Linked DNA regions of Homo sapiens: region 2 is linked to region 1. A link means that fine-mapping ties the variant in region 1 to the expression of a gene that starts in the linked region. Tissue or cell type: lymphoblastoid cells. Region 1 holds a variant in brackets; the other region holds the start of a gene. All regions are shown on one strand. Distances are from middle to middle.

Evidence for each region. PIP is the estimated chance that this variant, and not a neighbour inherited with it, causes the effect.
Region 2: FAM201A starts here. The variant in region 1 is fine-mapped to the expression of FAM201A in lymphoblastoid cells (TwinsUK, PIP 0.95).

Annotation. Positions count from the first base shown.
Region 1 is chr9:38,672,602-38,676,841 of GRCh38, forward strand. No RefSeq gene overlaps it. Among named protein-coding and RNA genes, the nearest start is that of FAM240B, 45 kb to the right of the region's middle. RefSeq lists an enhancer at 1-310. The variant C/CT (reference allele first, on the strand shown) is at 1,806.
Region 2 is chr9:38,619,112-38,623,351 of GRCh38, forward strand. It overlaps FAM201A (family with sequence similarity 201 member A), which reads left to right and starts at 1,977. Exons shown (of 2, transcript NR_027294.1): 1 at 1,977-2,254; 2 at 2,721-4,173. ANKRD18A (ankyrin repeat domain 18A) reads right to left here and starts at 1,485. Exons shown (of 16, transcript NM_147195.4): 1 at 969-1,485. The coding sequence starts at 1,174. RefSeq lists enhancers at 2,131-2,250, 2,903-3,112.

The DNA.
Region 1 (4,240 bases):
CTCTTCAGCCGGATCTGTGGTCGCCTCTGAAACCGCAGGCTCCCTCTGTGATGGGCTCGCCAGGCCCTGCTGCTCCTCCGGCTCACGGAAGTGCCCTGTGGTGCACGGGGTTTTCACTCCAGAGAGAGCCGGGGAACCCCGCCCCCATCAAAGTTGAAGTGTCCTCTATCCAAAGGAGCTCCTCTGCCAGCTTTTTTTTTTTTTCTTTTTTTCTTTTTTTCTTTTTTTTGAGATGGAGCCTCGCTCTGTCGCCCAGGCTGGAGTGCAGTGGCGCAATCTTGGCTCACTGCAAGCTCCGCCTCCCGGGTTCACGCCGTTCTCCTGCTTCAGCCTCCCGAGTTGCTGGGACTACAGGCGTCTGCCACCACGCCCGGCTAATTTTTTGTATTTTTAATAGAGACCGGGTTTCACCGTGTTAGCCAGGATAGTCTCCATCTCCTGACCTCAAGTGATCCACCCACCACAGCCTCCCAAAGTGCTGGGATTGCAGGTGTGAGCCACCGCGCCGGGCCACTCCTCTGCCAGCTTTGCAGACCACTGCCTCCCTGAAAATCAATCTGACATCCAAAACGTGTATGCTCGACAGTGTTCTGGTGTGTGTTTTACCACTTTAAAAACAAGAGTGGTCCAAACATCTACATTAAGGACTAACTAGTAAATTGAGACTTGCTCTCTGAAACTCCACAGTTATGGCCCTAAAAGTTCCCAAGGCAGGGCCTTGCACTTGGCGATGGGAAATGTAAATGAAATGTGTACGCTCAGTGGTTTTCATTGACTATTAGGCTTATGGCAGATAGTCTCTGCCAAGTTATAGAATTAGTATTCCTTCTCCAGATTTCTCCCTCTCTTACACCTGGACAACTGGAGCAGAATTCATAAAATTCTGTGCTGAAAAGGTGAATGTGCTGAGAGAAGGAGGAGGAAGAAACAGTCCCTCTATTTGTTCAGCCAAATGGCTAAACGCACCGTGACGAAAAGCTGGGGACCGAAAATGAGCCGCTTCAGTTTACGTGAAGCAAACTAACATCTTAAGTTACATTCAGCACAGACATATCTGCTGCAGTAATTTTTAAAAACCGTACAAAAAGTTGTTAGGCAATCGTTGCGAACACAATACAATGAAAAGAGCGCATGCCCTAAGTCATGGCTCAGTCCTGGGCACCAAAGCCAAGCTGTGCCATCCCCGGCAAGACCTGGAAAGTCTCCCGGCCTCAGTGTCCTCCTCCGTGAGGCCTGGATGTGAACCTCACAGGGCTGCGCTGAAGAGTAAATGTGATAATGAATCTGAGGACACTTTGTCAGTGCCATTCAAAAGTTCTTGTTTTAAAATTTATTGCTTTTGAAGCCATGTGAATTGGCTGTTGAGATATTTAAAAATTCTCACCACATGTGGCAAGGTTTATAGAGCCCTGAGTTACAGAATGCCAATTCACAAATGTCAGCCACACCCGGCTTTGGGGTGGCTCCGTGCGTCTTTGGCTGTGAGAACTGTACTCTCTGTACGCTGCTGTATTTGGTGCTGCTGGTGCCTAGGCTTCCTCTCTCTTCTCCCTTCCATTTCTCTTCAAAACCCCTCTCCCACTCTCCGCCACCATAGCACAGAGCCATGCTTCGGGCATAAGGTAATTAAATAGACTTTTGGAATTGACCTAAATACTGAAGCAGCGAGCACAACTAAGGTTTCATGTGAAAAAGTCTCACAATTCCCAAGGAACTGACAAACATACACATTTGAAGATCAACATATTTGGAGATTGAAGACTGCCTGGACAATATTTTTCCATGTGTAGGCCTAGCACAATTTG[C/CT]TTTTTTTTGTAAATTAGATAAAGAACCTTCACAGCTAAAGACAGTACTCTAGCAAATGCTTAAAGCTATGACCAAGTAGCAAAATCATGAGTCGTGATTCTATTTACTTTTCTATATCCAAAGCTCAATCAAACTAGGAGCAGAAGAAAGCTTTCTCAATCCGATAAAAGTTATCTATTAAAAACTCTACAGATAAATACAATGAAATAGTGAACACATTTCCCCCTAAGTTGAGAACAAGACAGGGATACCCACTCATACCAGCTCTATTCAACCTTGATAGTACAGTAAGTCAAGAACAATAAATGAAAGTTACAAAGTCTAGAAAGGAAGAATTAAAGCTGTCTTTATTTGCAGGTGATAACGGTGTACACAAAACATTCAAATTCAGAGACTCGCATGGTGGAACTTTCTGAGGTGTTTCAAACATTCCATATATTGACCTAGGTGATGGTTACACAGGCATTTACTCATGTGAAAAGTCACTAAGCTTTACACTTAAGATTTGTGAATTTTACTTGGTATAAGTGTACTTCAAAATAAGTTATAATGGTTTAAAATCATTGGCCTGAAAATATAACCACTGATGGTTTCAAAACATGTTTGCAAATTATTTGATGCTCCTCCTTTCAAAACGTGGACTGTAACTCCCTCCCCTTGAATATGGGCTGAACTTAGCGACTCACAGCTAGTGAATAAAGGTGGTGGAAGTGAGGCCATGTGACTTCTGAGACTAGGCCATCAAAAGGATGCAGCTTCCACCTGGCTCTGTCTCTGCCAGGATGACACTCTGTGGGAAGGCAGCCACCATGTCATGAAGACTCTCAAGCAGCCTTGGGGAGATGCACGCTTGATGAGGAACTGAGGCCTCACACCAGCAACCAGCAGCATTGTGCCGGCTGTGTGAGCTCGCCAATGTGCAAGTGGATTCCCTAGCCATTCAAGTCATCAGGCCCCGGCAGTCCTGACTTTTTGACTGTAGCCTCATGAGAGAGCCTGAGCCAGAACCACCCAGGGAAGCTGCTCATAAATCCTTGCCCCACAGAAAACTTTGAGAGGTGATAAATGTTTATGGGTGTTTTAAGCCGGAGAGTTTTGGGGGTAATTTGTTACACAGCCATGGATAATCCTTGTCTTCAGAGTTAGTGATTATGTTTGAATCGGATGCTTCATGACTGGGAATGATTAAAATGTTAAAAGTTCTATATATCTTTTATTCTACTCTGCAAAACAAGCTTCAAGTGCTATGTATAAGGCATTATGTAAATTAAAACATACCAAGTCCTGAAAATGTAAAAAATGCAAGTAATGTTATGTTGTTCGTTTACTAGATGCCCCTTTTCACTTTTGGGCCCCAAAGCCTCTAAATCTGGAGAATGTGGGTGACTTTGGAATAAAATACTAAGAATGCAGCAGCCATAAGAAAGTGACATTCTAAGGAATTTTCCCAGGATAGCGAACCAAGCATGACAACTGAGGCCTCTTTTGCCAAAGTGACAGTGTGAGAAGGAAGAAGGAAAAGCCTCTGAATGGTTGTATTTTGGTCTCATTATACTACTTTGTTCTTCTAAGCTAGATGTCAAGTCCTTATAAATCCTCTTCTGATTTATGCTCTTGAAGCAGTAGGAAGTCAGGTTTGAACTCACCAAATGACAGAGGGTTTGATGAGCACAGCATCCCCATCATTCCAGCTGCCTCCCATGCTGGCCACCGGGCTGAGGGCACCTTCCACTTTAGGAACTGGTCAGAGCTTGTGTTGCTGTTGTTAGAAGACTCAGATCCTCCCCCACCACCAAACTCTCTACATGGAAGAGCACAGCAACCCTTCTCCTTACTTAACTCAGTACAGAAAGACAAGTTAATTCCCAACACAATGCCCAACTTTGTAGCTGGGCACTGCCCTTTCAGATTAGCTTAAAGAAAGTTGCATGGTTGCTTCCAGTTCCATGTGCTGTTCCTCCTCAGTGCTGCTTTCCCACCTTTCCACTTCTGCAATTTCAACAGTAAGTTTGTTAAGTGAGCCCTCTAAAATGCATGGTCATGAATAATTTTAATAGTAAAATGGGGCCGGGCGCAGTGGCTCACGCCTGTAATCCCAGCACTTTGGGAGGCCGAGGAGGGTGGATCACGAGGTCAGGAGATCAAGACCATCCTGGCTAACACGGTGAAACCCTGTCTCTACTAAAAATACAAAAGATTAGCCAGTCGTGGTGGCAGATGCCTGTAGTCCCAGCTACTCGGGACGCTGAGGCAGGAGAACGGCATGAACCCGGGAGCTTGCAGTGAGCCAAGATCGCTCCATTGCACTCCAGCCTGGGTGACAGAGCGAGACTCTCTCTCAAAAAAAAAAAAAAAAAAAAATTGTAAAATTGTTTAAACTATAGGTGCTAGAAATAAGTAAGCACTTGATAATGGATTCGTTGCACTTAAGAAT
Region 2 (4,240 bases), 53 kb before region 1:
TCAGAATGCCTGCTTGCGAGGTCATTCTTACGAAGGCCTTTGTTAACATAAAATGTACCTGTATAAATAAGTCTTTGCGTTTTCTTCTGGTACTTTTTCTCATTTTGCATGTGTAAAAATTTCAGTCTGAATTCCATCAGGAACCCATTTTTGCGACATAAAGTTTCATTAGTTTTCTTCACACAGCAGGCATTTTATTAATAACTCATCTTTTCCTACTCATCTGAAACGTTACCATTATCCATCCCTATGTATATATCTTACATATATTTCAGTGTTTTTGGATTTCCTGTTCTGTTCCATTTATTTATCTGTGTTTTCAGCTGTTAGTAAATAATTAATTGTGGGAATTAATAGCACATTTTGATATCTAGAGGAGCAAGTCTTTTCACTCCATTATAAACATTTTTAAATGTCATCACAATGGTAAGATAGATAGCAAGTGTCATGCAAAAATGATAAAACCTTGATATCTTCATTCAGTTTATGTAAAACTGATAAACATGGAAACAGTTCATATTTTGAGAAAACTGAGTCTTCCCATTCAAGGAACCCACCTCGCGCTTCCCAGTGTCCCTCTAAGAAGCTCCAGTAAAGAACCTGTCTACCTAGGTGGATTCGGATGTAAAACCGACACAGGGTTTTATCTGAGAACTCTTCGCCTACTGAAAAAGGCTCATGGTATTTTTGACAGGGGAATGAGTTCTCATTAGGCACCTCCCTATCATGTATATGGCCCCATGTTTTAAACGTGGATATGCCTAACTTTGTGAGTTAAATCACTCAAATTTTCCACCAAGCGCGACGGACGGGGAATTGCCAGCGACGGAAAGCAGCTGAGGCTCCATTTGGCTCCGCTGCTCCGAGGGTGCCCGGCGCCCTCCAAGGTCCCCGCCCCAGGGGCTGCCGGGCTGCAGGGAAGCCGGGCCTGCGGCCCCCTCCCACCGCGGGCTGAGTCCCCGAGCTACCTGTCTTTTCTGTCGCGGGCGTCCAAGTCCCGGAACCTGCGCGTCAGGCAGCGCTCCACCTCCGCGGCGTCGCCCTTGATGGCAGCCCTGTGGATCTTCCGCAGTTCCCAGTCCCGAATGTCGTAACCCGGACCCGCATACTCTTGGTCCATGGAGCTCAGGAGCGCCTGGCCCAGGCGTCTCCCGAAGCTGAAGAGCTTCCTCATGGTGGCGACTTCTCAGACGCCCACCACCCGCTCCTGAGCCGCGGCGGCTCCTCGTGGCCTTTCCACCCCCACTCCGCCCCAAATCCGCGATCTCCCCCGCAACCCGCGATCCCCCCCGCAACCCGCGATCCACCCCCAAATCCAAGATCCACCCCCAAACCCGCAATGTAGCTCAGAATCCGCGATCCAGCCCGGTCCACCACAGCCTTCAGCAGCGACACTCGCAGACTCCGACCTCTCAGACCGAGTGAGCCCAGCTAAGCCGTTAGGCGCGCGCCTGAACCTCAGCGCTCCGAACTCTCAGACCGAGTGAGTCCCCGCGATGCCAGTTAGGCGCGCGCCTACAACTCAGCGCCAGCCGGGACTCCGGAAGCCGCTCCCAAGCCCTCGTGGCCGGCAGGGGGCACCTGCAGCACGGGCGCACGCGTCGCTGGCTTGCGGGTTCTCCTGGGCTCCCGCGGGACGTCCCGGAATCCCAGGAGTGCATCCCTTCCCGCCTGAGGGCCTGCCTGGCCCTGACTCCCGACCCGCTCCTCCTCCGAAGAGAGATCGGGGCCGCTGACAGGGGCCCTCCGCAGCCACCGGGGATGGGACTGGGGGGTCGGTTCCTGTCCCGGTGCAGCCGCCGCCGGGTAGACCGCCTGGCTTGGCCGCAGCCAGGGCGACATGTAGCCCCGGTTCTGCCAGGCTGGGAGCGCCAGCCATCTTGGGAGTTGCCAGGCAGCTGTCGCCAGCAGGTAGAGGGCGCCTGCAGCTTGGGCGCCCAGGTGGTGGAGCACGGCCTAGGCGGCCTCTGGATCGCGAGTGCACCTGGCCTGAGAGCCCGCCAGGCCCTGCCCCTGCTCGGCTCCTCGTCTGCTGAAGCTCGGGACCTCTAGCCAGTGGCCCTCTGCAGCCACGGGGAATGGGGCTGAGAGCCGGTTCCCGCTGCAGGGCAGACCACCTAGCTCAGCCGCAGCCACAGGGACATCTGGCCCCGGTTCTGAGATGTGGGGAGTGCTGGCGGGCTCGGGGGTTGCCTGGAGGCTGCTGCCTGCACACAGAAGGCGGATGCAGCTTGGGTGCCCAGGCGGGCTGGAGGTGCATGGCCTGGTCGGCCTCGGGATCGCCAGCGCGCCCAGCCTGAGGGCCCCCAGGCCGTGCCTCCCGCCCATTCCTCCACCGGAGGGGGATCGGGGTCGCTGGCATGGGCACTTGGCAGTCACTCCGGATGGGGTTGAGCAGGGGTTCTCAGTTTTCGCCCCTGTGCAGCCGCCGCCGGGCAGAATGCCTGGCTTGGCCGCAGCCACTGCTACACCTAGCGGGTCGGGCGGGCCGGGGGGTGAAAGCGCTGGGAGGCGGGTGCCTTCTCGCCCTGTGGCGCCTCTGGGCCCCACGGCTTGTCGGCCTCCGGCGCGCAGGGCTCCCCAGCATCCTGGGCGCCGGCCCGCTGCCTGCACAAAGTCAACTCAGACAGGATGAACTTCGGTTGCCTTGTCTGGCTGGGCTGCCAGGCGGGGCAGCTGACCTGCTGATGGGGTGACTTTCTTCATCTTCTTGCCCACAGGACAGCGGGCTGGGAAGCCAGGGGCCGCCGGGACCTGGGGCTGGAAACCACATCTGCCCACAGCCGCAGCCTCCTGCACCTGTCATCCTGGCGGCGCCCTGACGTCGGAGAAGCAGCAGGCGCGGAGCTCCTGCAGCGGGCACCGCTGCAGCAACCCGACCCGGCGCAGGCGGCAGTGGAAGGCGGCCTGCTAGCACGGCTCCCGCGGCCCCAGGACCAGGGGTGCGGCCAGCACCGCCCTCACTCCCCGCGTCTCGTGGATATTGCCCTCCCTGGAGGCGGCTGGACCTAAGCGAGGCTCGCAGCGATCGGCCCCGCGAAGACTCGCATGCAGGGCTCAGGATCCCGCATTCTGGCGCCGCGGCACCGCACCTTTCAGCAGCCCTGCTCCTCTTCTTGTTGGTAAACTTTTGTCACTCTGCCATGAAAAGCATCCAGGCGTCCTTGATTTCGACATTGCGTGCACGCTCAGCCGAGCTCATCAGACGGGCGGTTGTCCCCAGAGCCCGCGGGTAGCTTGTTCCCGGGCGGCGGCTCCTGCTGGATGCAGCTCCTTGTGGGCCTACCAGGCTTGGTGGAGCCACAGCAGACCTGTGGAGAGGAAGAGTAAGGCGGGCTCTGCAGGGCAGTGGGCCGGGACCATGAGAGAGGCGGGTCAGTCTGGGCTCCAAGCTCAGCCTCTCGGATTCCCCGGGACCCACGGCTTATAATGCGCTTAAATCCCACGCCTCGCCCGAGAGACAGCACGTCACCGTCACCGTCACCGCCTAGCGCCCCTGACCCGCTCCCACTCCGCTGCAGCGGAGGGTGTGTGAGGGAGAGGGACGCAGGGAGGGAAAAGCGTTGGGAGGGCAAACATCTTTTCATAAGCTTTTCCCCTTCTATATGCCATCTCTGATGGGAGCCTCTTTAGATCTTTCGTCCATTTACTAATTGGGTTGTTCGATTTCTTATTGTTGAGTTGTAAGTGGTTTTTAATGGTCTGGATGCCAGACAGGTGTTTTGCAAATATTTTCTCCGTCTGTGGCTTGTTTCTCCATTCTCTTATTTCCTTTCCCAGAGCAAAAGTTTTTAATTGTAACGACTTCATACCAATATCTTCTTTCATGGTAGAAATTTGTCTTTTATGTACTTTACTGTTGTATCTACAAAGTAATTGCCAAACCCAAAGTTACCTAAATATCCCTTTTGTTATTTTACAGAAGTTTTACAGCTTTTGGATTTAAATTTAGGTCTAAAAATTGAATTCATAAAAGTAGAGAGTATAATGATGCTTACCAGAGGCTGTGTTGCTGGGGAGAAAAATGGGAAGTTGTTCACAGATGCAAAGATTCAGTTAAACCGGAGAAATGCGTTTTGAAATCTATTGCACAGCAGGATGACTATAGTCAATAATAATGTACTGTATATTTAAATAACAAAAAGTAAATTTCAAATATCTAACCACAAAAAATAAAATTGAGGTGATGGGTATTTTTTATTTTATTTATTTATTTGTTTATTTATTTATTTTTTTGAGA